6 separate regions of the Homo sapiens genome follow, and all the other regions are linked to region 1. The links come from fine-mapping of genetic effects on gene expression. A gene starts in region 1. Each other region holds a variant in brackets. All regions are shown on one strand. Distances are between the middles of the regions.

Region 1 (5,076 bases):
TACTCATGGTGGAAGGCAAAGTGAGAGCAGGCATCTCACATGGCGACAACCAGATAGGGAGAGAGAGAGAGAGAGAGTGGGATGGCGGAGTTGCCACACACTTTTAGATGACCAGAGCTCACTTATCACAAAGGGGATGGCCCAGGCCATTCATGAGGGATCCGCCCCCTATGACCAAAACACCTACCACTAGGACCCACCTCTAATATTGGGGATTATATTTCAACATGAGATTTGGGTGGGGACAAACATCCAAACTATATCATGCTGGTGTTTTTCATTTGTTTGTTTTTTGTTTTTTTTTTTAATAAAAGATTGTAGTGTTCTGCCATTATCCTGTCATTACATAATTCTAAAATTAAAAAAGAAACATATATCCTTATCATTGCCTGTTTCTGTCAAGCTCAATAAATGTCCTTAATGGTTCATAGTATTGTAAAATTACTGTGTCAAAAATGCTTAAGCATTTGTCAAAGGCCTCTTACTCCTCCTTTGCATTCACTGCTAGTAGGCATTGCCCTGGACTTTACTCTGATTGAGTAAAAGCCAAAGTCCTTTTATTGAAATGGCCAAGGTCCTGCATATTCTGGCCATTCACTGCACACCCACCTGACTGGCTGCATTTCCCGATTCTCATTCTTGCTTCCTTATTGTTCCTCCAACATACCAATACAGTACTCCTGCCCATAACCACCTTGTCTAAATAACAACCTTGACAGAGCAGGTGCATCACCATCATGGACAAGCACTGCCATTTTAAAGTTCCCCTTGATCAAAAACCACCTAAATCCAAACAGCATCAGCCTAATGGCTAAGGTCAGCATGACCATACACCACAAATGACATCTCCGACCAGAAACATTCCAACCCTAAGATAAACCCCTCCCTGACCAGAGACATGCGAGCCCCGAGATAACCTCCCCTCCGACAGAGACATTCCAACTTGGCAATAAACTTCTTCTCCAAACAGAAACATTCCACGCCTGTGATAAGCTCTCTCACTCTAAAATCCTTAAATACTCTTAGTCTGTAAGAGAGTGCTCCTGACCGAAATCGGCCAGAAGCCCCTCTTAGGTTTATTCTTCCAAATAACACTGTCTGACTGTTGAGCTGCTATTAGTGTTTCTTTCCTCTTTCTTTAACTCTTACAAACTCCTTGCCCCATCTCCCATAGCTCCTGGCTCAACCTCCTGAGTAGCTGGGACCACAGACATGTACCATCTTGCCTGGCTAATTTTCTATTTTTTGAAGAGTTAGGGGGCAGTTCTCACTTTGTTGCCCAGGCTGGTCTTGAACTCCTGGGCTTAAGAAATCCTACTGCCTCGGCCTCCCAAAGTGCTGGGGTTACAGGAATGAGCCACCACGCCTGACCCCTATTTCTTCATGGCATTTGTCAGTGGCTGACACCCTACGTATTTATCTAATTTTTGTTTGTTCTCCCAACACGACTGGAATGTGAGCTTTATAAGGGCAATGACTCAGCAATGAAGAATGAATAGGAAAAAATATAGCGAGTTCTTTATTCATTCATTCAAATTACTATTTATTGAGAACTTACTGTAGACTAGACACAGAAAACACTTTCGACATTAAACATATAGAACTTGTTAAATAGTTATGTTTTGTTCAGTGGTTGTACAAATCTAAAATTAACAATTAAAAGTGTGTGTGTGTTTTTTAAGGGGTGGGTGGGTAGGAAGTCTCACAGATGGCGAGTCCAGAGCAGAAGCCTTGAAGGAAAATCAAGGTGTCAAAGGCAGAGCACACTGCCCCTTAGCTATTGCTCAGTGCACCAGGGTGGAGAGCTGCTGCCAGCCTATTAGATCCTCTCTCCAGGGAATTCAGAATGTGGATTGATCCAAGCTAGTCATTCCCTACTGATCTTTCAAACAGAGGTGAGGCACGCCCGTATGGAGAGCAGTTTCTTTAGCTTGCACAAACCCTGTGTTCGTCACCAGTGTCCAGGACAGGCTGCAGGTGTGGCTGGGGACTGTGATCTTCTTGTAGGGCCTCCTTAGGGATTGTGCAACCACAAAGGCAGAAGCAGCTCTTGCAGAGTGTGATGACGTTCACAACCTATATTTGACTTGTACTATATTCTCATCACTACAGGAGAAGAGGCCCAATGGGAAATGTGTGCTGTTCTAAATATAGCACCTGCCTCCTATACCTGCTAGATTTAGGTTGAATCTTTCACTGCCTGTGAAGGACTTTAGCAGGCCTCAGTGACCGGAAAGATCTACCCACGCTTTCAAGCACAGGAAGGACGGTATTGGAAGGCCTTGGGGTCCAGCCCAGGGCTTAAAGTCAGTTCCATTGGAATGCCATTTTCAGAGAGTTTTCATCCCAGACTCTCCAAGGGTGGCAGGCTCTTGTATCAGCCCTGGGACATGTGTCCTCTAGCAGTCAGGTAGTTAGGCAGGCACCTGTCTATCAATTTGTTGTTTTTCTTCTCAGTTTTCCGGTAAGACTACCCCGAGCTCTTCAATGTTTTCTTTGCTTTTGTTTACATTGAGTGTATGACGCGGGATGGGCTTCGTAGGCTGGTTGTGGGTTATTACAGCTTCCCAGGAAGGGGAGAAACCCAATTCTTGCCAGCACGTGGTGGGCGCAGGCGCTCATAAATACTTAGGAATAAATGAATGTATAAGTGAGTGCATGAATGGGTGAGTGGACACGAAGCTTTCAAGGTGGGTGCAGGGAGGTGGGGGTGTGAAGAGCCATCGAGGCTACCCTGCGGCCCTGGCCCCCAGGCTATCCCGCGACGCGCGTCCACGCCGACCAGCGGAAGGTGCCCAGCCAGTGGGGGCGGGGCGAGCTAGCCGCGAGGACGCGCCCGCGGGGGGGCGGGGCTAAGAGGACGCGCCGGGAGCAGCGGAGCGACGAGGACAGGCCGCGGGGAGGGGCGGGGCCACGGGGGGTGCGCCGGGCGGAAGGGGCGGGAAGAGGGCGGGCCCGGCGCGCGGTAGCGCGGGCCCCTCAGTGCACAATGGCTAGAGCAGGCGGCGGAGCCCCAACCCCACCCAGTGCGGAGCGCGCCGCGAGCCCCGCCGCAAGCTGAGCGCCTCCGCCCGCCAGGCGCGCCGGCGCCGGGCCATGTACTCGGGGAACCGCAGCGGCGGCCACGGCTACTGGGACGGCGGCGGGGCCGCGGGCGCTGAGGGGCCGGCGCCGGCGGGGACACTGAGCCCCGCGCCCCTCTTCAGCCCCGGCACCTACGAGCGCCTGGCGCTGCTGCTGGGCTCCATTGGGCTGCTGGGCGTCGGCAACAACCTGCTGGTGCTCGTCCTCTACTACAAGTTCCAGCGGCTCCGCACTCCCACTCACCTCCTCCTGGTCAACATCAGCCTCAGCGACCTGCTGGTGTCCCTCTTCGGGGTCACCTTTACCTTCGTGTCCTGCCTGAGGAACGGCTGGGTGTGGGACACCGTGGGCTGCGTGTGGGACGGGTTTAGCGGCAGCCTCTTCGGTGAGTTGGACTGGGAGAAGGCAGCCTCCCCTCTGCAAACTTCCACTCCCCACCCCGCTGCCCGCTCCGTGCGTCCGCCCCCCAGCCCGCCCCGCACCGCTTCCCGCTCGGCCCCGCGCCCCCCGCCCTACACCGCCCCGCTCCCCGCTCGCCTCCTCAACGCTGCCCGACCCCAGCCGCATGGCGGGTGCCTTCCTCTTCCTCCGTCCCCTCCCGCCCCACGCTGTCCAGGACTCCATTCCTGTGGTCTCTCATCTGCCCCCCACGTTGACCCCAAACCCCGGCCCGCCTCCTTTCTTATTTGTTTTTACCTCCTAAGATCACTCAACAAGGCACGAAACCACGGCTTTTTACACTTTGAGGAAAGAGACGAGGGCCTGTAGAGTCAAGAGATTCAAGAAAAAAAGTGATTAACTCGTGAAAGTTGGAGGGAGTGATGAGATTAGATTCATGTACTACTATTTGTTTCCTAAAATGAGAGTAGAAAACCAAAATAACAATGTGTAAAAAAAAATTCTCATTAGTACTTGTAAACCTTTGAATGCTTTCTAGGGAATGAGACAGTTTCATTCAGGTCCTCAGAATGCAAATTGGCATGTGCCCTGTAAGCTGTTTTTACTATTTTCCGTCTTATAGATGGGTTCCAGCACACCAGAATCTTGGGTGAGATTACAAATGGCTCAGCCAATACCATCTCAGGTGAACAAATACTGTAATTAGCTCTGCAATCGGTAGATTTCATTAAAGTAGAACTTCATTGTTGAAGATGTATTTCGACAGTACTCTTATTATGGAAGATTTAAGTTTCACTGAGACATGATGTTTTGAAGGATGATCAACAACTCAGCAAATCATTGAAGGAAGCGTAGAAAGGAAATTATTTTTTTGTGTGCCTCAGGAATTTCATTTGTAGGGAGATTTGAAATAGAAATGTGTATTTCTCAAGGCTTAAAGTTCCTTTTTTAAATCCTGAAATCCATTGATACTTTATTGCTTTAATCTTGGTAGGTTTGGGAGAACAAAAATCTTTGTAGAATTATCAAAAATATTTTCTTATTCAGTAACCTCTATGCTATGACAAACCCAAATATTATATTTGTAATGATTCATTTTTTGGCGTTTTGAAGGAAATAAGAAAATAGATTTTATTTGATTGCTTCAGAGGTTATAATATTTTCCTCCCCGCCCCTCATAAGCTTTAATCTGATAATTTCATTTGAACAAACATTTGAAATTTAGGGAGGGGACTGCAAGTGTATGTAGGCTGTGGTATGGACGACTATGGGATTACACTCCTTATATTAATTGTAAAATACCTATCAGGCAGTTTCTTCGGCAATGCTAAGAAGGTTATTCAAGCCCAAGCCTAAAGTATCATCAGTAGTGTTCTCCAGGGTAGTCAACAGGTGTTTGTTCACAGACATCAAAGTTCTTTTTTCCTTGAAGTGCCTTTTCTGTGCTGGAAAATTCTGTTTTCGTGCCCGGGAGTTTGAACACAAGGGTGTACTGAGTTCTTTATAAGTGCTAGCTGTCATCCACCCTCTTCCTCACCTCTTTCCTCTGCTGATCCCACCCTCCTGTGTCTCCTGGTCACTTCTCCCTTCCTG
Region 2 (5,076 bases), 550 kb after region 1:
GAGTTATTTTGCACATGTCCCTAGCTAAACCTTAAGCTCCATTTGGTCAAGGATTCAGAGTTAACTCCACATCTAAACACGCATATAAAAATGTTACTCATATATATATTGATGAGCTAATGAAAGGGGTGAACTTATCTCCTTTAGAATTCAGGCAGATAAATGCACTACGTTGCCATCCTGCACTGGGAACTGGTCAGTTCCACTGTGTATGGCCTGCTTAGAGGCATTCTAATTCAGGAATTATGAAAATACATAGGCTAAACAAAAAACTTTGCTCATCTGATTAAGTTTGGCTGCAATTTTGTGATACCCACTCTAGTGGAGTCTAAAATTTTTGATTGAGTTCTTCAGATAGCAAATATCTCAACAGCAAGCTGTTGGAAGAATTCTTGGTTGACAACATTAAGATTTTAATTGAAAAATAAGATTGGACATATAGATTGAGAATTAACCTGGGAATCTCTAATAATTGTTTTAATGTTCACTGCTGTAAAATAACAGTGGTAGCTATTCAATAAAGAGAATATCAATGACATTTTTCACGTTAATGTAATTAGGTCCAAGTAATCATTTTATATTCCCTGGAAACTTTGCAGGCGTGCTCTGCCTCGTAGGTTCAATTAGATGCTTTGTCGTGGATTTAGTTGGTATATCTAGTATTATGTCTAGCACTTATCAGCTTCTTTATATTAATATTCCCAAATTATAATGTTCTCAAGCTCCATTCACTTTACTAGAAGTTTTCAGTCTTTTCTAGTTAGTATCCCTCCCCAGATTTTTCTTATAATCTGTGGGGATTGTTAATTCCTCTATTCTTTTGTGGCCCAACTCGCAACGGACTGCTGGCTTTCCCAGCTCTTTCAGCTTCCCCCTTCTCTCCCTGAGCATGTTTCATGGTCTACTGCAGAGCTTCTAATGAAACAAGGAATCCGCTGACTTTATTGCCCTTAGTAGAACCAGAAACCATTGTGATGAAGTCCTGCCATATGTGAAAGGAGGGTAGTGCAGTTGTTGCAGACTGGAGTCAATCTTTGCTATGGACTGTTCCACACGGAAGGAAGGATCGCAAATGTTGTAAATCTAACTTTCTCAAGTTACCAATTTGTGCTCCTTAAAGCCTCATTACTTCCATGGACCATTAGTATCAGAATCACTTGGAAACTTACAGGGAGAGATGTGTTAAAGAATGCGAAATTACAGCCACATAGTTCCAGTGTTCTATGCCACCGTAGAATGACTATAGTTAACAATAATATGTTGTGTAGCTTCAAATAGCTAGGAGGACATTGAGCCGTCCTGACAGAAAGAAATGATAAATATTTAAGATAATGGATATGTTAATTACTCAAAAAGGATAAATGTTTATCATTTCTCACTTTTCATTATTTATCACCATACATTATTTGTTTCTTGTTTTGTTTTGTTTTTTGATACAGTCTTGCTCTGTCACCCAGGCTGGAGTGCAGTGGTGCAAACATGGCAGCCTCACCCTCCTGAGCTCAAGCAATCCTCCTGCCTCAGCATCCCAAGTAGCTGGGACCACAGGCACCTGCCACCATGCCTGGTTGATTTTTAATTTTTTGTTTGTTTGTTTTGGTAGAGACAAGATCTCACCATGTTGCCTAGGCTAGTCTCAAATTCCTGGGCTCCAGTGATCTTCCTGCCTTGGCCTCCCAAAGTGCTGGGATTATAGGAATGAGCCCAGCCATCATATATTATTTGTATCAAAACATCACTATGTATCCCATGAATATGTACAATTATTATTTGTTAATTTTAAAAGAAAATATAGTATCTGGACCCACCCCCAGATGTACTAAATTAGAACCTCAATTTGTGCACTAAAGTTTAAGACATATTGCCTTAAAATGCACCCAGAGAAGCTGGGCAGCTCCGGGGAGCATGCTTGTTTTATTGAGAGCTCTGGGATCAGTGGCCACCTTGCTTGTGCCAATCTTTTTCTTTGAAGGGCTCTAATCATCTCTGCAGTCTGGCCTCAATCAAGGCCACCCCAGCCTATCTAATGACTTTTTAAAAAAAATTTTACTTGGGGAAGGAAAAAGCAGTTAGGAAGAATAATCTAGTTCTTTCTCCTTCCTTTACTCCCAAGCTGAGAGTCTCTGTTGCCCCTAAGATTGATAGCTGTCAACAGCTTTGTGGGAGAATGAACACTACCCAACTCCACCAGACAACTCCCATGCTTCAAAGGAAAACATAGGTCATGGTGGCCAAGTAATGCCCATATCCACCTCAAGTGAAAACAGCTGTGTTGAGAAAGTGATGCTATAATCCAATTCCCCCTGCAACATCTGCAATCCAGACCCAGATCATGTCAAAGAATGCAATGACAAATATAATCTACCTAATAATAGGGTTTGTGTTTTGTTTTTGTTTTTCCTGCTAAATGCATTTTGTCCAGTGAAACATCTAAGACTTTTCTTTGTTTTTGTTTTTGTTTTTGTTTTGGTTTTAGAGTTGTTGATTTCAACCTCCTGGTTTCCATAGTCCCAAGACCATAGGACAGTATCTTTGGATAATTCCTCTATGCCATTTCCTTGAACTCTGAGATGAGAAATGTCCTTGAGTGCATCCAGTCACAGCATTACCTTCTTCTCCAGAAGTGCCTTCTCAGCTGCAGAGATAGCTCAGGCAGCTGCACAGGTTGTATGTGACCTGGTGTCTCAGGGCCAGGGAATGAGATCAGTGGTGTATGTACATTATAGAATTTGACTAACAGCTCTCTCCCCTGGGCTTCTGTTGAGATTCCCAGAACTTTGGTGAAGTGTGTGTGTGACTCTGTGTGTGTGTGTGTGTGTGTGTGTGTGTGTGTGTGTGT[T/GTT]TATGTATGTCTGGCACTGAGGCAATGTAACCTAGGGGCTGGGTAATGCCCCTGTGCAGAGAGCAGCAAAGGAAGCCTGTCTGCAGTTGAGAACAGTGAAGCATGTAAGGAAGGAGAAGCAGAGAAGATAAGGCAGAGAGTACTGGGTTACTGGTAGCTTTGCAGCTCTTGCCCCAGTCCTCAGGCACAGTCCAGCAGTCTGCACAAACTTCCTTCTGGTTTCTTCATCTCCTTCAATCCTCCACAGTAAAACATCTACCTTTTGTTTCACTATGTTTTCGACTTCGACTTCCCTTTTCTAGCTTAAACTTTTCCCATCTCAATATTTCTTCTAATTATACCTAGGAGTCATCCCCCATAGCACATGTATTGGACACAAAGTATTTATGGTTGCAAAAAAAAAAGGAGTGTACATGAAAAATGTTATAAAAGGAGAATATTTGGGATTGATGAAATGCCACTCTGGAGTATGGCTGCAATAAATTCTCTGGAGAAGGTCTTAGGAATGCAGATTTCAAATGCAAACCACAGATATTCTAATTCATTAGTGCTGAGATGGAACCAGGGAATCTATAATTTTTGTTTTTATTTTACTTTATTTTATTTATTTTTTCCCCTAGATTAAATATTAAGCTCAGGTTATAGAAATATGTATTTTTAAGCTGATTTTAAAAATATGGGATTGGTGTCTGCTGGTCTTAGATGCATGCTAACTACGTTTTTCTTTATATTTTTAATTCAATGCAATGAACATTGATCAAATACTCACTATGTTCCAGTAACTATACTGGGTTTTGTGGGCTAGTATTTTACCGTTGCTGGGGAAATAGATTACATATACATTAGCAATAAACGTGTAACTAACTTGTACGAGGAACCAAGGTAAGTTCCTTTAGCAGAGGTTTAAAAAGTCAGGTGTAGGAACAGAACTGTTTAAAGGCTATAACTTTGTAATCTCATCTTCAACAAAGAACTTGAATTGTCTGTCCTTAACTACAAAAAAAAACCTTTAAGAAGTTTGAGTATAATAGTATCAAAGCCTTTAGAGCAGGCAGATAGATGATTATTTGTATCTTATTTTGTGATTTCTGCGAAATTGTACTAAAAGACATTTCCTTCATGTTCTCTAAGTTTCTAATGAAAAAAACAATAAAATAAATGTATTTTATAATAAACTACTAAAAAATTGTGTCTTTGAAGATAAACTTTACTTTTTCCTTTTTAAAAACAATAATGTATAATTTGTATTTTCCTTTTCCTTTTTTCTGTAGTTGCCAAGAAGTTCACTGCTAAATTTAATGTTCCATTCTTTCTTTTTCTCATGTGATTCATCCCTGACATATCTGCCTTTCTTTGTCTTCTAATTGTTTTTTTTTTCTATCTTTTATTGTTGTTCTTTTAAGTTTGTTGGGGGCTATATTGTAAATTGCTTCAAATCATATTTTGAAGGCAGGTAAGGAATAAATCCTGAAGAGGCATCTGAGAAGTGTCTGCTTTGTGGTAAGGAGTGGTTTTGCCCGGAATCTGCCCCATACAAGTGGGGATATACATCTTGGCTTTGAACAAGTGCTCTACCACAATAGAAAAAGATGAAGTTCAAATATTATTCCATGAGAGTTTCATAAAAGTGCTCAGTCACTGTTAACACCATTATGTCTTCAAATTGAAAAAATAACTATATAGCTAAAAATATATTTGTAGATTTTGCTGAAGATTTTCTGTAAATGAAATCCATAAGTCTTATTCTTGCATGATAGCTCTTTCCCTGGAATTCATATCCTGTAACTTACAATGTTTATTCATTCTCTCATCTGAAAATCTTTGGTAAAGCAAACTATAACACTCATACCAGCTAAAAAATCCTTTGTACTTAAAACTCTAAATTTTAGAAGAATAGAGATCCAAATCCAGATGAAGCATAAAAGTTTATGAATAAAAGAGGAAATGATTAATTTTAAATTTGTAAGATAGTTGCTTCATTTGTGGTACTATTTTAAACTATACCATTTACCTTGGCTACAGGCATATTTGAGTGAATTAAAACTGACAACATAGGTTTTCACTTGCTTAACAAGATATTGAAATAGCACGTGGTTTCTTGTGTGCTGTATTCTAGAAAATACATTACAGTATAATAATATCAAATACTATTTGGATATAGATGTTTTGATTCATAATCATGGGTGCTTTATAAATTTTAGGTGCATTATATAATAAATAGGCTTTAAACCCTGATG
Region 3 (5,076 bases), 28 kb after region 1:
ATTCTCAGTTCCTGTTAAGTGCTTTCATCCAACTGTTTTTTTTTTTTTTTTTTTAGACTTTGGCCCCACTGTGCTTATGTTTGTTATTCTTCTGAACCTTAATTAATTCCACAGAGAAGTTACTTTATATTCAAACTTTTTTCCCACTCAGCCCATAGACTCTGGTCATACTGGATATTTCTTGGGTCTCTTAGTGTAATAATGATCCTTTTTTGCATTGTTAACCATCTTGTTCAATATCCTTTCCTGACGAGCAGAGGCATAAGTGTGGAAAAAGTTCTAATGAGGTCCTATTCCAAGATAGGGCTCTCCTTTTCCTTGGTTATGGTTTGTGGAGTTTAAGCAATTACTGGGGGGAAACAAACGCCTAAAGCTTTGTCAAATCAGAGGCAAGTCAAAAAGTCTAAGGCTAGGATATCTGTCCAAACGGGACTATAGGCAGAAAAGCCTAAGGCTAGGATATCTGTCCAAATGGGACTATGGGCAGAAAAGCCTAAGGCTAGGATATCTGTCCGAATGGGACTGTAGGCAGAAAAGCCTAAGGCTAGGATATCTGTCCAAATGGGACTATAGGCAGAAAAGAAGCCAAGTTTGAAGCCAGAATGGTCAGAGAACAAGGGGAGCTGATATTAAAAGAACCAAAGATAACAGAGGGGAGGTAAGCCTGGCACGATTTCCAAGCTACTGCACAGGTGCCCAGCGTAGCCTAGGAGGAGATGCTTATGGTGAAAAATGTCCGTATGTTTTAACAACTATGGCAACTATTTGCCCCGTGTACCCTATTTTTTAAAAAGTCACTAAATTTAATAGAAAAAAAATGCAATGCATGTGAAATACCAGTGAAGGATAGCATGAGTGAGCACAATGGAAACAACAGTGCAGCATTTTAAACTGTGAGCAGCTAGCCACAGACCACAGCATGTGGCCTGCCTCATTCAATCGTTCTCTTCTGGTAGTTCACTGGCCCTCTCTTAAGGGGCCTCTCAGTTTTAAATGCACTGCAAGCATTTGGGTAGCTATGACACACAATGGTCAGAAATACATTTCTATATAAGTTGATTACCTGAAATCATAATTTTTTTTTTTAATTTTGAGACGGAGTCTCACTCTGTTGCCCAGGCTGGAGTGCATTGGCATGATCTCGGCTGACTGCAACCTCCACCTCATGGATTCCAGCGATTCTCCTGCTTCAGCCTCCCAAGTAGCTGGGACTACAGGTGCGCACCACCAAGCCTGGCTAATTTTTGTATTTTTAGTAGAAACAGGGTTTCACCATGTTGGCCAGGCTGGTCTCAAACTCCTGACCTCAGGTGATCTGCCTGCCTTGGCCTCCCAAAGTGCTGGGATTACAGGCATGAGCCACCACACCGGACCTGAAATCTTAATTTTTTAACCCACAGAAAGGGTTTTAATTTTGATGTTGTGCTGGGTTTCCTTTGAAACTGAGTCATTGTGCACGAAATATGAAGACTACTGAACATGAAAATTTAATAGAATGCAGTTTCCACATCCTGATGTGGAAAACATGTATAATAAAAACCAACTACCACTTTGGTTGTTCTAGCAAACTGCTTTTATTGGTCAAATGGAAATCACTCATTCTAACAGCTGAGAGATATTATTCAAATGAAGGTAGTCTTTCATTTTCTCTAAAATTCTTCAATTTAAGAATATTGAGTTTAAAAAAATGACTTCTTCTGATATCAAAGTTAGACATGGTTACAGAACATACGTAGCAGACAATGGATTAAATATGCTTTCTATAGAGACTCTACATCACTAATATAAAATTTTTGATAATTCTCAAAGAAGAATTAGAAAACAAGTATAGCACAGCATGGACTTTGGAAGCAGACTGTGTGATTCGAGTCTTGGCTCTTTTATTTTTTAGCTTGTGACCTTGGCAAATGACTAAACCATTATTGCCTCAGTTTCTTCATCTGTAAAATGGGAATCGTAATTATAATTCCTACATGTCTCACAGAGTTGTTATGAAGATTAAGTGAGATAACACAGGCAAACTGCTTAGAACAGTCCCTGACTCATAGTAAGTACTCTCTATAAGTGTTAGTGGGCTGAAATTACTATTGTTAATTAAATAAAAAGGAGGAAGGAAACTTTCTCAACAAATAAGCAATATAAACAAGATTTCAAAGAAGAATTGGTTACTTGCTTAAAAGAACAAACTTTTTCAAGCATATTAAATGTACTGGTTTTCTTTAATATTGTTTCATATGACTAGATATTATAGGAGCAACAGGATGGTATGCCCGCTGCACGGTAACAGCCATGATTGAGTGGGTGCTGAGCGATGAGATGGAGGAGACCCTAAAATTCATCTCCCTGAGG[A/G]GATCTGGGTTGGGATTTTTAAGGGGACCATGAGGAGAAAGAGGATGGGAATTGGGGTCATTGATTGGTTGGGTTACGGAGGATGAAATCATCAGGATGTGGAAACTGCATTCTTTGGTGAGTCAGCTTCTCGTGGGATCCTTCAGGCAAGCTGATGTCAGTAGTTTCACTGGTACGTAGGACCTGAAAGAATATCTCAAATGGAAAACTTAACATTATATAATGTTCAAGCTGTTATCCATAGAGCAGTTAAGGGGAACTATAATTTTGTCACAGGGTCTACGTGATTCTGGGACAAGAGGCAAACAGCTATGAGGAAGCAGGTCAGAGAGCAAGCTGACCTCATAATCCATGCTGAATGTACCACAGGCTTGGTTTATTTTACATTCCCCTTGTCCTTTTTTCCTTGATTAATTTTATAAAGCTTCTAGGGATGGTCTCATAAAGACCACTACTTAGTAAAGTAGTATCTTTATTAAGCAATCTTCGTAGAGTTTTGTTTCCATTACTATCTGTGAACAAAAATAGTTAAACTGCATCTTTTTAAATTTCTACAAATTGATATATTTTTGAGTGAGCAAAATTTTCATTAATTTGAGAAAAATGCATCCACTTAGTTTGGAAGATTTTACTGTGTGCTCATTCACCCAGCCAACTCTGAAGACCACAAGACAGGTATTTACAGTTGCCCCATTTTATAGGTAGAGAATTTGAAACACAGTCCATCCAGATATTGTTCAAAATGATCCAGAGAATCTATGATGACATAAGTTATCCCCTAATCATCTTCACTTCCAAATTTACTTCTCTCCCATTTCTTTTCTAAGTCAATGCAACATCAGCTATTAATTATAACAAACCAGTAACCCAAGACTTGCTTTGATTCTTCTTCATTCATTCCCACAGCCAACAAAGATTAACTTCCTTAAATATGGTGGACCTTCCTCGTCTCTCCTTCCCTAGTGCCACTGCATCAGTTTCATTCCTTATCACAGTAACCATATTTCTCCACTAGGTTTCCCTAGAACCAGGCTTGGCTCACAATCCATTTTCCTCATTGCAGCCCAAGGGAACTTCCCATAAGGAAAACCTCCAAAAGCAAAATCAAAAGAAAATAAAATTCTCTAGAATTGTATTGTAATGGAAGTGAACAAAAACAGCTTAATGGCTCCTCAGAGCCCTCGGGACACATTCCAAGCTCCACGCATGGCATTTAAGGGTTTTCTAGGAGAGTCCTTAGTCTTTTCATTCTCTGTTTAGAACTCCGTCCTACCATTTTGAATTATTTGCAGGCACCTAAATGGTGCAAGCTCTGTCAGATCTCCATGTATTTACATAAGCTGTTTTCTCTTCCTGGAATAGGATAAGAGGATTGGCTGTCACTTCACTTCCCCATCATTTTTTTTTTTTTTTTTTTGGCCTTGTTAAAGTGTGCTTAATCTTTAAGACTCACTCAGGTGGTACCTGCTTCCCACAGAAAATACCCTGAGTTGGGTGTTCCTCCTCCCACTATAGGCAGAGTTTCTCCTTCTACCTCCTTCTCTGGATTATGTGCTCCTTGAAGGCATGGGTTTCGTCATAGTAACCTTTTCATACAACAGATAAGGATTGACAGGTCTCGGTCATGGCCTTTTTTGAAGCACGCTCTTCTGTTTAGTGTGAACTTGCTTACCCCAGTCTAGATACTTGAACTATAAATAAGCTATTCAATGTGGCCATCTAGTGGCCAAAGTGAGAAAATAACTGTATTATTGGGTAGTTGTATATTGATAAACACACCTTGTATTAATATTTAAGCTCCAGAGTTGTATTGATATTTAACCTCCAGAGCCCTGTCCACTCCCATGCCTTCCACCCACTTTCTACTACTTAAAGCAATTTAGCTCCAAGATATTCAACTATTCAGTAATAATAATAATACCTTACGCATTACCACTTTACTAAACATGTATATTCTCATTTAATACAGCCACACACCCACACGATGAGACAGCATTTTGGTACTATTATCTCAGTTTTACTGGTGAGCAAATTGAGATTCTGGGATGTTAATTAATTTTCCCATGGTCACAGAGTAATTATGTGAAAAAAAATGAAATTGATCTGAAGTCAGACGACATTCATTAGGTAATATGGAGAAAACTGGAATTGAATACAGGACTTTTGGCCTCAAACATATGTCTCTATTACTGAATTTATCACATTGTTTTATAGTAGTTTACTTCTCTGTTTATAATTCATCTTTTTTTCTTATTGTCTAGCACAGTGCCTGACACACAGTATGTGTATGACATGTGTTTGTTGATAAATATTGCAAATGAGTGTATAATCATTAAGTTATACCGGAAAGAACTATTTGACTCAAACTGATGCACAGAGTAGACATTTAAATATATATTTTCACTTCTGTGCTTTTATACATACTGTATCCTTGGCCTTGAAATATCCTCACTCTTGTCAACTTGATAAAATTCTCCTGTTCATCAATTCAAATGTTGCTTTCCCTTAAAACCTTCCCCAGTGTTTCCCCAGGCAGAGATAAGTACTTCCTCCATTGCATTCTCCAGCTCCCCGACACAGCTTTGTTTAACTCTTATCACATTCCTGTAATTGTTTGTTTACACATCTGTCTTCTCCAGACTGTGAGATCTTTGGCAGCAATTCAGGCAGAAGGAACAGCAGTATCAAAGCTGCCAGCTCTGAGTGAACATGCCGGGCAGTTTGCAG
Region 4 (5,076 bases), 60 kb after region 1:
GATTGGAAGTATTTTTTAAAAAACAATAAAAATAATGCAACAAAAAAGAATACAAATAAAAATACAGTATAACAATTATATACATGACATTTATATTGTATTAGGTATATGTATTATAAGTAATCTATAGATGATTTTAAGTACCTGAGACCCTCTTCTTCAACTCCAGGCAGTGCAGCTTGGGGAAAAACTCCCTTCACTTGGGGAAAGGAGAAGAAAAAGTATAGAGGTCTTTGTCTTACTAGTTAGTTAGGTACCAGCTAAGCCACAATAAAATAAAGCACCAAGTAGTTTCCTGAAGCCCCTGATTCCAGGTCTTAGCTCCTGGATGGCATTTCTATACCCACCCTGGGGCAGAAGGGAATTTTCTGCCTTGAAGGCAATGACTGAGTCCTGGCAGGGTTCACCACCTGCTAACTAAAGAGCCCTTGGGCCTTGAATAAACATCAGTGGTAGCCAGGCAGTAGTCACCATGGGCATTAGGCAAGACACAGTACTGTGTTAGCTTCAGGTATGACCCAGCACAGTGCCAGCTGTGGTGGCCACAGGAGTGCTTGTGTCACTCCTCCCCCAACTCCAGGCAGCCTAGCATGGGGAGAAAAACTCCTTGTGGTTCAAGGAACAAAAGAGAAGAGACTGAGATACTTTGCCTAGTAACCCAAGGAATTCTCCCTTTAGGACAATGCTTCATTTAGAAGCACCATTGTGCCTCTAGGACTTGGCAAGAGTTGTAGCATTCCTGGGCTTAGGGCACCTCCTAGTACTGATACAGCTGCAGTGACCATAAACTTAGACCGCAACACTCATTCCCCTTGGAATACCTGGAAAGCTATTTCAAGAAGGACAGGTACAAACAAGCCAAGAATGTGAAGACAAAATAGACAAAATAGACACCTAATTCTTCAACACCCAGATATCAACAAACATCCACAAGCATCAAGAACACCCAAGGAACATGACCTTACCAAACGAACTAAATAAGGCACCAGTGACCAATCCTGGAGTGACAAAGATATATGACCTTTCAAATAGAGAATTCAAAATACTCGTCTTGCAGAAGTTCAACAAACATCAAGATAATACAGAGAAGGAATTCAGAATTGTATCAGATAAATTTAACAAAGAGATTGAAATAATTTTTAAAAATCAAGCAGACATTTTGGAGCTGAAAAATTCAATTGAAAAATGCATCAGAGTCTCTCAACAGCAGAATTGATCAAACAGAAGAAAAAATTAGTGAGCTGGAAGACAGGCTATATAAAAATACAGTCAGAGGGAAACAATAAGAATAAAAAAGAATTAAGCATACATATAAGATCCAGGAAATAGCCTGACAAGGGCAAATCTAATAGTTGTTGGCCTTAAAGAGAACATATATAGAGAGAGACATAAGGGTAGAAAGTTTATTCAAAGAAATAATAATGAAAACTTCCCAAACCTAGAGAAAGATATGAATATCCAGCTACAAGAAGATCATAAAACACTAAACAGATTCAAGCCAAATAAGGCTACATCAAAGCATATATTAATGGAACTCTCAAAGGTCAAGGATAAAGAAAGGATCCTGAAAGCAACAAGTAAAAATAAGCAAATAACATAAAAGGAGCTCCAATATGTCTGGCAGCAGACTTTGCAGCAGAAACCTTTAGGACAAAAGAGAATGGATTGGCATATTCAAAGTGCTAAAGGAATAAAAGCTTCCAATTTAGAATATTGTATGCAGCAAAATTATTCTACAAACATGAAGGAGAAATATGTTCACAGACAAACAAAACCTGAGAGATTTCATCAACACCAGATCCGTCTTACAAGAAATACTCAAGGGAGATCTTCAATATGAAAGAAAAGGATGTTAACAAATGAGAAAAAAAATCACCTGAAGGTATCTAATTCACTGGTAATAGTAAGTATACAGACAAATACAGTATACTATTAACACTGTAACTGCAGTATGTACATATCTTTAGTAGAAGGACCAAAAGACACATTTATCAAAAATAATAATTACAAGAACTTTTTAGAGACAGTATAAAAAGATATATATAGAGACAACAAAATGTCAAAATGCCAGGGGGATGGAGTTAAAGTGTAGAGTTGTTTAGTTTTCTCTTTGCTTGTTTGTCTTTTCTTTTCTTTTCTCTTTTTTTCTTCTTTCTTTCTTTTTCTTTGTAATCCGGGTTAAGTTGTCATCAGTTTAAAATACTTGGTTGTAAGATGTTATTTGCAAGCCTCATGGTAACCACAAAACAAAAACCTATGATAGGTACACAAAAAATAATAAGCAAAAACTTAAAACATACTACCAGAGAATATCACTTTTACACAAAGGAAAACAAGAAGGAAGAAAGAAGAAGAGGACCAACAAAACAACCAGAAAAGAAGTAACTGTATGGCAGCAGTAAGTCCATACCTATCATTAGTAATACTGAAACTAAATGGAATAAATTCCCTAATAAAAATACATAGAGCAGTTGGATGTATAAAAAGATAAGACTCAACTATATGCTGCCTACAAGAAATTCACATCACCTATAAAGACACACATCGACTGAAAATAAAAGGATGGAAAAAGATATTCCAAGCAAATGGAAATCATAAAAGAGCAGGAGTTGCTATACTTATATGAGACAAAATGGATTTCAAGACAAAAACTCTAAAGACAAACAAATGAGTTCATTATATAATGACAAAAAGGTCAATT[T/C]GGTAAGAGAATATAATAGTAAATATCTATGCATCCAACACAGGAGCACCCAGATATAGAAAGCAAATATTATTAGAACTAAAGACAGTGATAGACCCCAATACAATAATAGCTGGGTACTTAACACCCCAGTTTCACCTTTGGACAGATCATCAAGACATAAAATAAAGAAAAAGTATGTAAGAAATGGACCTAATATGTATTTACAGAACATATTATCCAAAAAAGGCAGAATACATGTTCTTTTCCTTAGCACATGAAACATCCTCAAAGATAGGTTGTATGTTAGGTCACAAAAAAAATCTCAAAAAATTTTTAAAAATTGAAATCACATCAAGTATCTTTTCTGACCACAGTGAGATGAAACTAGAAATAAATAACAAGAGAAACTTTGTAAATTATACAAACACATGGAAATTAAACAATATGCTCCTGAATGACCACTGGGTCAATGAAGAAATTGACCAATAAGGGAATTTAAAGATTTCTTGAAACAAATGAAAATGGAAACAGAACATACCAAAACCTGTGGGACACAGCCAAAGCAGTACTAAAGTTGAAGTGTATAGCAATAAATACCTACATCAAAAAAGTAGAAAAACTTCAAATAAACAACCTAACAATTGTATCCTAAAGAGCTATAAAAGCAAGAGCAAACTGAATCCAAAATTAGTTGAAGAAAGAAAAAATCTTTCCCCCTAAGACAGTGAATTGGAGGCAATGTTAGCATGCCTCTCCCACTTGGGAAGATAAAATGTGGTGTAGAGATATGTAGAGATATATGTAGAGACTATGTAGAGATACACACTGTGAACTTTTTTCCAGGAGGCAACACAGGAACTTAACAGGAAAACGGAAGGAAACCATAAGACCCTTTAAAAGAAGAGATAGGCTGCTGCAACCTATACTATAAGCCATGTGAAAAATTGTTAAGTCCTCAAAGTGTGAGAGGGTGAGAGCCTGCCTCCAGGATATAAATCCCCACTGGGGAACCTGGCAATCCAGTCCATGGGGGAAGGCGTTAACCCTACCAAGCACTGGAACTGATTTAGTGAGCAGTGGGAAATATAAAAGCAGGAGCAGCAGCTGGAAGAGACTTTTGGACATTCCCGGTCTCCAGTACAAACCAAGGGAGGTTATTCCTGATTCTACATTACTGGGAACCTCATGGAAGTCTGCAAGCTAACTCAGGCAGCAGTCACAGGTTGAGAGAAGCTCCCAACTAAAATCTGTGATATAATCTCGAGCAGGGTTGAACTCTCTTGGCCAGAACTGGGAGGTGAATGGGAAGTGTGCTACAGCCACGAGTGCAGAAGCTGGGTGCCCTGGATTTGTGGGTGGACTGGGAGGGGAGTGGCCTGAAAGTCACCAGTTGCTGTCTCTGAGGAGAAGGCTTATGGCCTAGGACAGTTTTGAGTGTAGACTTCCTGGAGCTTAGCTAGCTGTTGCTAGCAGAACACTGTGGGTGTAAGACCTGCCTTGCCAAGTGCATGGAAGCTGGGTGGAGCTTACTGCCGCCTGCTACTCCCTAATTGCTGGGCAAACTCTTCAGTGAAGCAGAGGCAGTTGTCCTCATCCCTGAAGCGTTACCTTAGTGGCCAGAAAACTGTCTCCTGGCCCCCACAGGGAATGCTGCTTGCATGGACCTGCCCAGCACAACTCTGACCTGGCTTCACCCCTCCACCTACCCTGGTAGCTTAACACAAAAGACAGAAACTTTTGGGAGCTTTATAACCCTGCCCATCACGTAAGAAACCAGAGTACCTCCCCTAGGTAACATAAGGCAAGCAGAAATCCCACTGCTACCACCAAACCTGGTGCTCTTTTGCAAGTACAACCACCTGGCAGAAGCCAACTGACACAGTCCATTACAGACAGCATCTGCAGGTAGAATAACCTGCACTCAGGAAGGAGAAAATTTGTGTATGACCTCAGCTATCACTGTGATATGGTTTGGCTGTGTCCCCACCCAAATCTCATCTTGAATTGTATCTCCCATAATTCCCATGTGTTGTGGGAGGGACCTGGTGGGACATAATTGAATCATGGGGGCAATTTCCCTCATACAATTCTCGTGGTAGTGAATAAGTCTCATGAGATCTGATGGTTTTATAAGGGAAAACCCTTTCACTTGGCTCTCACTCTTCTCTTGTCTGCTACCATGTGAGAAGGGCCTTTCACCTTCCACCATAATTGTGAGGCCTCCCTAGCCACATGAAACTGTGCATCCATCAAACCTCTCTTTCTTTATAAATTACCCAATCTTGGGTATGTCTTTATCAGCAGCATGAAAACAGATTAATACACACCATTACCTACACCACCCTGGCTAACCAGGAAGTTCTAAGTCTGTCCACATAACCAGTTAATTACTC
Region 5 (5,076 bases), 64 kb before region 1:
TGATTTCTGGATTCTTTGAAGGTTGCTGGCTATAAAATTTTGTATTGGAAAGGCTTAGGCTTGTAATATGTTTGAAAAGTTCTGCTGTGTCTAAGATTGCTAAAAAAATTAGTTTTTCATATCAAAGAATGTCTAGGGCTCATAAGGGAGTTAAGGAGAGAGGACAGTTGACTCTAAGTGTACTCCAAAAGGGAAATACTCAAGGTAGGAAAGTTGCCAGGGGCAGCAAAGCCTATGAAGGAAGTAGAGTTTTTAGGGCTTACTCAGTGGGTCCTCAGTCAGTGAGTCAACAACATTTATGAGTGCCAGCTGTACGCCCAACACTGCCCTAGGGGATAGATACATCAGTGAACTACAAGAACAGAGGTGAGAGTGTCCATCAGTTGAGGGTCACAAACTCAAAGTCTGCAGCAGCCAGGCAGGTAAACTAGCTGGGAGAAGGGGTTGGGTATGACACCACAGGGAGAAGGGGGGCTGTGGTGAACTGAGAGTGCATGCCTGTGAAAAGGGGGAGCCCGGGCCCAGAGCCAGCCAACATGCACAACAGGAAAGGCAGGTTCACCACAACAAGCAAAGATCAAAAAAATAAGTGATCCCCCAAACACATTTTGTAGCTGCATTTGGCTAACAGGCTACCAGTTTGCAGGAATAGCTCTCATATTTTTTGAAATAGACACTACAATTAAAAATCAATTATTTAAATAAAATTTGTTAAAATACCTTGATGAGTGAGAACAATCACCTGAAAAAATTTGATTTTTAAAAATTTAATAAAAAATAATGCAAAATAACCAAATTCACTGCTAGATAGAAAGCTTTACTAAATGGAAGAGCAGGTAGTATTATCTCTATGTGAAAGAATACTTCTAAAATATTTAAAACAGTTTTTTGAACTAATTTAAATCTACTTTGTAAGTAGTTATCCTTCTATCAAATGCAAAGTTCATAAAAGGAGTCTCAATTTAGTAACATAAATCAAAAGTCAGTATTTAGGCTTTTGAAAATGCTTAAATGTCCCAGATGAGAAGTAGTTAAGTTCTAACTGATGACTCATTTACAGGTTTGCCAGTGACATACTTTGTCACCATAGCTGCTTGGCTGAATGAACTGAACTGGATGTAGTACAAACCAGGAAGGGCATTATTTTCTTTTACCCTGTCTTATCTTGTCACCTCGCCCCAACAGCAAATCTTCTTGGGCCAATTCCCATTAGGATGGCTCCAGCGAAGCTACCTTCTGTGGCCCAAAGGGAATTCACAGGATGCTGGACAGTATCAGTGTGAATGCAGCCTTGCCACTCTGTGGCGGGTTCCTCCAGCCAGGGTCGACCTGATCCTTAGGCACAGCTGGCACAAGGCCTGGAGCCCAAAGTACTTTTAGGGGCCCGTGGAAATATTCTAGTTGCACTTAAAATCAGAAGGCAAAAATAAAAGCTTAGGGTCATAGGACATTAGAATTTTTAGGGCCCATGAAAACATACTAAATTTTTCCTAAGACAGAAGAAAAATGTTGAAGACATAAAAGTATATGAAAAATAATGTGTAAGATTGATAGTATTATGGTGGGAGGGACCTATAAAGGCAAAAATGCCCAGGGCCGGGAAAGTCAGACTGTGGCCCAGCCTGCAGCCTTCAGAATTCTCCATGAGGGCCAGGCATGGTGGCTCGCACCTGTAATCTCAGCACTTTGGGAGGCCAAGGTGGGAGGATCATTTGAAGCCAAGAGTCTGAGACCAGTCTGGGCAACATAACAAGACCCCATCTCTACCAAAATTAAGAAAAATTAGCCGGGCGTGTTGGCACACATCTGTATCTGCAGCCACTCAGGAGGCTGAGGCAGGAGGATTGCTTGATCCCAGGAACTCGAAGGTGCAATGAGCTATAATCATGCCCCTGCCCTCCAGTCCAGGTGACGGGGTAACATTAAGACCTTGTATCTTTTATTATTATTATTATTATTATTATTATTATTATTATTTATTTATTTATTTTTTTAGAGACAGAGTCTTGCTCTATCGCCCAGGCTGGAGTGCAGTGGCGCGATCTCGGCTCACTGCAAGCTCCGCCTCCCGGGTTCACGCCATTCTCCTGCCTCAGCCTCCCGAGTAGCTGGGACTACAGGCGCCCGCCACCATGCCCTGCTATTTTTTTTGTATTTTCAGTAGAGACGGGGTTTCACCGTGTTAGCCGGGATGGTCTCGATCTCCTGACCTCATGATCCGCCCTCCTTGGCCTCCCAAAGTGCTGGGATTACAGGCGTGAGCCACCCCGCCCGGCCAAGACCTTGTCTCTAAAAAGAAAAAAAATAAATTCTCCATGAGGAAGCGAGTAGTGGTCATCGCGTACATGTGTCACATGTCAAGCTTGCCCAAGGTGAGCCTGTGAGTTCTGAGCCTCAGCAACTAGCTACTGGGGAGCTAGATGCGTTTCCCCACTTTAGGCTCTTCTGGAGTAGATCTTCCTGGACCT[G/A]TCAGCACTTGCTTTGTAGCACCAGAAGCTCTCGCCCCAACCGCCACTCCCATTTTGGGGAAGGCAGACAAAATAACCCTGCATTCCCCCATTGGCCCACAACCAGGTACCTTAATCCCTCTTTTCAATTATTTTTGAATTGCTGGTTGTATCATATTCACATTTGCTGGCAAGGGATGATGGTGTAAAGGTCATGGGTCTAGAGCAATCCTCTCCAGTAATTCTTGAGGATGGTCTACTATACCTCTCTTTAGAATGGCATTAGCTGAAATTCTAAGACAGCAGGAAAAGAGCCATTTAATACCCTATTAACTGATTATGAGCAAATCTAACAACCTTTTTACTTAAATTTCTCAGCATGTGGAATTGTGTTCATACTTCCCATTTTAAAAATTTCAGTTTCTTAAGGATATTTGCCCTTTAGATGTAATTACTCTATTTTCCTATAAAAAATAATGATAGGAGCCCACATAATTAAATGAATTACAAATGAGTGAACTGTGCCTTTAAATAAAACTTCTTTCAAGTAGAAAGGCTCATATAATTGATGTCAATTTGGAAAATGAAAGATGGCCTGCTTTCCAGTATTTCATGTTCATATTCAGCTGCATATCCTTTGAAAAATTGCTTTTTCATTCTGTTATTAGAAGTATCTTACTCTAACCAGCATGCATAAAAAATCAAACATTTTGTGAGAAATCTATCATGATAATATTAACCAGCATTTCGATAGCACTTTAAGAGTGAAGAGCGTTTTTTCATATACTTTCCAGTGCATTGAGATATCAGTTTGGTGTTTGGACTTGAGCCCAGGTCCACCACACTATGCTCCCTTCTCAGGATGGCAGGGGTGAGGTTGGGAAGGAAGGAGACTGTCCTCTTGGCCAGGACACCTTAGTGAGCCCCACCTGTAAACACCACCCATAGCAGAGTGGCACCAGACTCACAGTTTCGTGTACAATGTGGGCCCATGATGTTCATTAATAACAAGATAAAATGTAGATACCATGTGATATGGTTAGGCTTTGTGTCCCCACCCAAATCTCATCTTGAATTGTAATCCCCAAGTATTGAGGAAGGAACCTAGTGGGAGGTGATTGGTTCATGGGGGCGGCTTCTCCCGTGTTGTTCTTGTGTTAGTGAGTGAGTTCTCATGAGATCTGATGATTTTATAAGTGTTTGGCAAGTTCCTCTTTTGCTCACTTTTCTCTCTCCTGCCATCATGTGAAGAAGGTCCTTGCTTCCCTTTCACCTTCCGCCATGATTGTAAGTTTCCTGAAGCCTCCCCAGCCATGTGGAACTGTGAGTCAATTAACCTCTTTCCTTTACAAATTATTGAGTCTCAGATAGTATCTTTATAGCAGTGTGAAAATGGATTAATACACAACGGTTCTTTGAATATAGAAGGCTCCCAATAAATAATTGTTTGAATATCCTTAAGGGACAAATACCTGATTAACAATAACCACTTCCCGGAGTCACACAGAATAGAAATGTATTGATTCTGGGAAGTTCATTCTGACTTTTTCCCTGATCCCCCTGAAATGATAGCAATTTTAAAGAGAAACATTTTCTGACAGTTTCTTCAAAACAGAAAAAAAAAAAAAACTTTTTGATAGAGTCCCCTATCAAAAGTCCCTGGCTGAATTACCACATGCTTCATCTCAGACTTTTCTCCTGTTGTTCCATGAATTAATGAGCGTGATGCAGGGAGAGAAGCAGAGTCATCAGGTAGAAGGTAAAGGGGTGACTTTTTTCAGGGGGCATGTGTTACACGATAGGGGTTGTTCACTGAATGGAAGGCAATGCTGCAGACGGGAAGCATCCCAGGGGAACTGTGTGATTGCTAAAGAAGCAGGGCTACTGAGTCAGCAGAGTCCCTCGATATTTTCTCCCGGTGACGGTGAGGTAGTTGGTGGGGAATGAGGGCAGGAAACAAGGAATAAGGCATTTCTCTTTTCTCCTTTATGATATAAGAGGAAAGAAATTTCAGAATGCCTCAGGTAAGGCATTTTTAAAAAGTGGCCCTAACTCTGTATTACTGCCTCTTATTGATCCATATTGTGCCCATTCCCAAGGGGCAAGGGAGGGTGCAATAGAAAATTCTACATCAGACATTGGCAAAATTTTTCCATAAAGAATAAGATAACAAATATTGTAGATTTTGCCATAAAGTCTCTGTTGTCAGAACTACTCAACTCTGCCACTGTAGCATGAAAACAATCATAGATAACACAAATAAGTATGGCTGTGATTCCCTTACAGCTCTATTCATGACCAGTGAAATTTAAATTTCATATCAATTTTATGGGTCATAAGATATTATTCTTTTTTAAAACTTTTGTTTCAGTCATTGAACAATGTAAAAACCATTCTTAGTTTGCAGATGTTATAAAAACAGGTGACTCATTGGATCTGGCCTTGGGCTACAGTTTGCTAATCCCTGCTCTAGATGCAGGAACAGGAAGCTTAAACCAGTGCACAAACTAATCTATGATAGTTTCATCTCTTCTCCTTTGTATTCAAGTTCTTTCTTTTTTTTTTTTTCCTTTAAATTTTTTCAGTATCTTTCTTAGGGGAACAAGAAAAGGAGCCAACATTTATTGAG
Region 6 (5,076 bases), 42 kb after region 1:
TTTGCTTTCCTCTATTCCATTCTTTACACACTGCCATCAGAGTAGTTGTTCTCAAGTATTACCTTCAGAAGTTCCACTGTCTTTGTGACTCAAAATAAAGCCCCTGGGTGTGGCCGGCAGGTCCTGTATGGCATCTCCTGTCTACCTGTCCAGCCTCATTTCTTGACACTCCTGTCTTCTTGCCACCTCATGATGCGGCCAATGGTAATATTTCTTGTTTTCAGAAACTGACTTTTTATTTTGCCTCTTGTCTTAGCACACTTTCTTTCTCTGGAACATTCTGTCTCTCCTCCTTACTTGACTAATTCCTCCTTCCCTCACAAGGCTAACAGCACGATTTTCTTGCTCTAACCCACCCTCAGAACCAGTTTCCCATCCTGTGTACTACCATATCCTCCCTGTTTACCTCCCTCATGGCTTCTACCCGCTCAGTGTGCATCATCCTCACCAAATAGTGAATTCCTCAAGAGCAGAGACTGGGTCTTATGTATTTTCTCACCTGTGACTGGAACAGTGTCTGCATGTAGTAGGTAATCAGTGACTATTTTTGGAATGAGTTACAAGCAGAGGGCATAGAAAGGGGAAGACAGGAGAAGGGGTGAAAGTGTGAAGAGATTTGACTTTAGCTGCTATCTAAACAGAGAGCTCACTGCAAGTAATTTGCCTCCGTTTCCTTATTCAGAGAGAGGTGACTCATAACAACGATGGAGACATAGCTACACACTTGAGAATGAAGATTCACAGTGAAATTCTTTGAAAATCTACAGATGTCTTGGATTAAGGAGCACTAGGCACCAGCCATTTATACAGCCAGAGAACAATCTGATAGAGAATTCTGAAGAATTTGTCTTAGCTGGTTCATTCTTTAGGACAAATTTGTGCCTGTGCCAATCATTTCAAAATTGCTTCATCCATAGCAATTTTGAAAACTATCCTCAAATGATTGAATAAAGAGGGTAAGACATGAAATCGAGTTTTTTATTTGGAAAATATTTAATGAGCAGAATGAAGGAATAGAAAGTAATGAAAGAAAGAGGCCTGAAAAAGATAAATAAAAAATAATCATGAAAACTTCACATATATAAACCCAAATAATCTAAAACATTAGTCAATATCTTCTCCTTATCCCAAAGAGGAACTGGGGATGTATAGACAAACATTTATTTAAATTAATTTCCCCAGCATGCATGTAATTCCAAGATGGATAAATGAGTGTTCTCCTTTGATAAATGGCGAGAGGGGATAAAGACTGACCTGCCCAGAAAATGGTACAGATAAAACGATTGGACCTAAATACTGGAGGTTTGGGAGGCAGATAACTGAGATGTGGTTATGTTGCTTGTTAATTGAAACTCTGAAGAGTCAATAATGATTCCAGATATCCTATAGTATCATAAATGTACATATACATACAAGTGTGTTAGTCTCATATCTAGTTCAAATATAAATAAGTATTTAACCTCAAAAACAACCCCACAAAGTCATACGTGTGGAAATGGAACTCAAGTTCTGTTAATTCTCATAGGTTTTTTTGCTTTACCTCCTTTCTTGTTTACTCTTAGAGGAGGTTGTTGACTTGCTCAATATCACACTGCGAGCAAAAGTGGTTAATCTGGGATATAAACTTAGATCTTCTAATTCCAAATCTAGACCTTTTATCAAAACCCCACAGCCTTCCTATAAACTAGGGAAGCTCCCCCAAAATGATGTTTTGAAAATAGAAAAATATTCTATCCCATTAAATAAAACAGTTTCTTTTAAAATAGAATTGCACACACAGAATAGTAGTATTCGGTTGGTGCAAAAGTAATTGCGGTTTTTGCCGTTAAAGGTAAACCTTTAAAGGTAACCTTTTTTAAAGGTAAATTATTTACCTTTCTGCACACCAAAAATATGTTCCTAAATAAAAATAGTTATCTCTGAACATTGTAATAAGTTATATGAATTTTACTACAAAAATACAAATACTTTATATATTGATTTTTTAAAGTAATTGGCATAGTGGTAAAGGAATATTATTTACCTTTAAATAAGGTGACCTTCAAAGGTTTACCTTTAATGGCAAAAACCACAATTACTTTTGCACCAAACTAATACCAGAAATTTAATACCCACTTTTCCCTGCACATAGTCTCTCTACCCTAAAAAAATCAATGATTTAAATTTTTCCTATTTCTCTCTATTCTTTGCTAATCTGAATACATGATTTTGATAAGAATATAATTTCTTAAATATAATTTTGGATATCAGTAATTTGAGAATTTTAATTAAAATATATTTCTAAATAATCTAAGCACATGTTCTAAATGATTTCTTTGGAAATTCTTTCTCTTAATTTTTATGATAATGCTAGAACCAAAAGGTACACTTAGAGTTCATTGAAATGCAGTAAATTTCCAGGCATAAAGTAATCAATACTAAGTATTAACTATATGCTAACTACTTAAAAAATCAATATATAGAGTATTTGTATTTTTGTAGTATAATTCATATAACTTATTACAATGTTTAGAGAGAACTATTTTGATTTAGGAACACATTTTTGGTGTGCAGAAATATTCTTTGCCTGTGTATTATTATGACACATATATAATAATAGGAGAAACAGCAAAAAGAAACATATTCAAGAAACTCAAAGAACTTTCAGGCTGTACATCATTACTCCTCCATCCCTTTAATGGGAACAGACTGCGAGTAGACAGGCTGGTTTTAGAGGAAGGAGTTGTTTTACCAAGTGCTGTTCTCTGCAAGTGATCCCCTAATGAAGCCAATCACAAACAAATTTCTCCTGAAATTCTACTTTACAGTCATTAGCAGTGAATTGAAAAGCTGGTTTTCAGTAAGAATTCACTTGGGAATTAAGTGCTCATCAAGGCCAGCTGCAGGCTTAATCATGCAGAACACCTGACATGACATGGGTGTGCAGTCTGATTTGAGAACTGGAGGACTAACACTCTATAGAGTTTCCAGGATCAC[A/G]GGGAAATTCTTTGCATTTTATCGTGACTCTCTCAGGCTGTCTTTTAGAGACTTGAAGATCTAGGCAAAATAATGTTATTCTTATTAAGTAAATAAGAGAACGTCAAAAAAAACACTGAAGGATGTAGGAGGCTCTGTAGCTCAACCACCCTATGTTGTAAGTGGGGAGACTGAGGCCCGGCAAGGTTAAAGCTGGACTCAGCTATGAGTCTTGGATCAGAAGTCAGCCTGCCAAGGTGCCATTCAGTTCTCTTTCCATTTAGGTGGGGCCAAGAATGGTGTCTGAATATCTGTTATAAAAACAACAAAAGAAACCCTTCTTTTGTTTTTTAAGCCCTTTCCTTTCTTTCTCCTTTCTGCAGCTTCGTTGTGTGGAAGATCTTCAGACAATTCAAGTGATCAAGATTTTAAAATATGAAAAGAAACTGGCCAAAATGTGCTTTTTAATGATATTCACCTTCCTGGTCTGTTGGATGCCTTATATCGTGATCTGCTTCTTGGTGGTTAATGGTCATGGTCACCTGGTCACTCCAACAATATCTATTGTTTCGTACCTCTTTGCTAAATCGAACACTGTATACAATCCAGTGATTTATGTCTTCATGATCAGAAAGGTAAGCTTTGCAATTAACTGATTGTTTTCACCCTGGGCATAGAGTTGGAAATGACAGTGTAATACTTTTACAGAGGTGATTCAGAGTCGCTTCAATTAAAAAAAAAACAAGAATTTTTTAGGAATTAAAGGGATCTGGAAGAAATGTAGAATATTTCCAAAGAAAATCATAACAATTCTAAGAACTACCCATAGGGATTCACACTTGTTAGGTAGAATTCTAGTAAAACTAATATTTAATTCATCAGAAAATAGTTTATGCCTAGTAATAACAGCTACAATGTTAATAATACATTTAAAATTCCTACTGTACCAAGCAAGTTACAAGCAAGTCACAAACAAGTTACAAGCCAGTTTACAAAACTCCACAAAATAGGCACTAATATTATTCCTTGTTTTATTTATGGGTTATGAATAAGTTCAGAGAAGTTAAATAACTTGCCCAATCCAGGAAGTATTGGTGCCAGGATTTGAACCTAGTTTGCTCAAATCCCCAAATCCAGTGCTTATAACTCCTCACTTGGGGTTATAGATACTTGTAGCAATTGGCCTGGGTTGTTATTCACATGCCACAGCAAATGTCTAGCCTAAATTAATTTGGTTCAAGAAACTTCCTGGGCCTGGTGTGGTGGCTCAAGCCAGTAAACCCAGCACTTGGGCATGCTGAGGCAGAAGGATTGCTTGAGCTAAGAGTTCAAGACCAACCTGGGCAACATAATGAGATGCCCCGCTCTCTCAAAAAAAAAAAAGAAAAAATTAGCTGGGCATGGTGGCATGTGCCTTAGTCGCAGCTACTCAGGGGCCTGAGATGAAAGGATCTCTTGAGCCCAGGAGGTCAAGGCTGCAGTGACCCACTATCGCACCAGTGCATTCCAGCCTGGGCGACAGAGCGAGACCCTGTCTCAAAAAGAAGAGGAACTTCCTTATCATCTGTTTCTGTAGTTGAAAGGTTTTGACTTGATGGCTATGAGTCATGGCTAGGAGAGCCCACAAAATGATTATTATAAAGCTGAGCCTCTACGTTTCAGAGAATTTAAAAGTTAAAGATAATGCTTAATTACTCCATTGGAATTTTAAAGATAACAGGTCATAATAATAACAGGCAATAATAATCACTGTGACTTCTAATGCTCAAGAATGTGGAAGAAGAGGGCACTTTTGTAATAACCTTATTATGTTCAGTGCTAAATCTCTCTGCCTCTTATTTTGCCTTTCCTTCTCTTTGAGTATTATTGGCTTACACTCTCCATAAACTCACTTTCACCTGCCTTAATCTCCTCTCACTGACAGTGTTTCTTTCCCTGTTTTGTTGCCTTCAATTGGTCTATTTCCTTTAACCCAGAGATTTTAAACTTGGAGTCCATAGGACCTAAACATTCCTTGAGTTGGCCTCAGAAGAGCCACTGAAACCCTGGAAATTGTTTATAACAATTTTTTAGTATGCACACATATGAATTTTTCTAGTGAGATGGTTTATAACTTTAATT

Alleles and levels. Alleles are on the strand shown, and positions count from the first base shown. SD is a standard deviation of normalised expression in the study named. Not every link is listed here.
For the expression in esophagus mucosa of the gene that starts at base 2,982 in region 1, A is the low allele of the variant in region 5 and G is the other (small effect, 0.25 SD a copy in GTEx).

What was found.
Region 2: its variant is fine-mapped to the expression of OPN3 in monocytes after muramyl dipeptide (Kim-Hellmuth 2017, PIP 0.95).
Region 3: its variant is fine-mapped to the expression of OPN3 in whole blood (INTERVAL, PIP 0.93).
Region 4: its variant is fine-mapped to the expression of OPN3 in whole blood (TOPMed, PIP above 0.99).
Region 5: its variant is fine-mapped to the expression of OPN3 in esophagus mucosa (GTEx, PIP above 0.99).
Region 6: its variant is fine-mapped to the expression of OPN3 in whole blood (TOPMed, PIP 0.99).

The regions. Positions count from the first base shown.
Region 1 is chr1:241,638,275-241,643,350 of GRCh38, reverse strand. OPN3 (opsin 3) reads left to right here and starts at 2,982. Exons shown (of 4, transcript NM_014322.3): 1 at 2,982-3,469. The coding sequence starts at 3,097. CHML (CHM like Rab escort protein) reads left to right here and starts at 2,982. Exons shown (of 2, transcript NM_001381853.1): 1 at 2,982-3,469. RefSeq lists silencers at 2,653-3,232, 3,563-3,612 and enhancers at 2,715-3,284, 3,285-3,855.
Region 2 is chr1:241,092,002-241,097,077 of GRCh38, reverse strand. The region is part of intron 3 of RGS7 (regulator of G protein signaling 7); the gene reads left to right. Among named protein-coding and RNA genes, the nearest start is that of MIR3123, 38 kb to the left of the region's middle. The variant T/GTT (reference allele first, on the strand shown) is at 2,840.
Region 3 is chr1:241,610,184-241,615,259 of GRCh38, reverse strand. The region is part of intron 1 of OPN3 (opsin 3); the gene reads left to right. Among named protein-coding and RNA genes, the nearest start is that of CHML, 28 kb to the left of the region's middle. The variant A/G (reference allele first, on the strand shown) is at 2,350.
Region 4 is chr1:241,578,677-241,583,752 of GRCh38, reverse strand. The region is part of intron 10 of KMO (kynurenine 3-monooxygenase); the gene reads right to left. Among named protein-coding and RNA genes, the nearest start is that of KMO, 49 kb to the right of the region's middle. The variant T/C (reference allele first, on the strand shown) is at 2,702.
Region 5 is chr1:241,702,461-241,707,536 of GRCh38, reverse strand. The region is part of intron 8 of WDR64 (WD repeat domain 64); the gene reads right to left. All of the region lies in intron 1 of LOC124904603 (a long non-coding RNA gene), which reads left to right. Among named protein-coding and RNA genes, the nearest start is that of WDR64, 53 kb to the right of the region's middle. The variant G/A (reference allele first, on the strand shown) is at 2,469.
Region 6 is chr1:241,596,260-241,601,335 of GRCh38, reverse strand. OPN3 (opsin 3) reads left to right here. Exons shown (of 4, transcript NM_014322.3): 3 at 3,339-3,590. Among named protein-coding and RNA genes, the nearest start is that of CHML, 42 kb to the left of the region's middle. The variant A/G (reference allele first, on the strand shown) is at 2,977.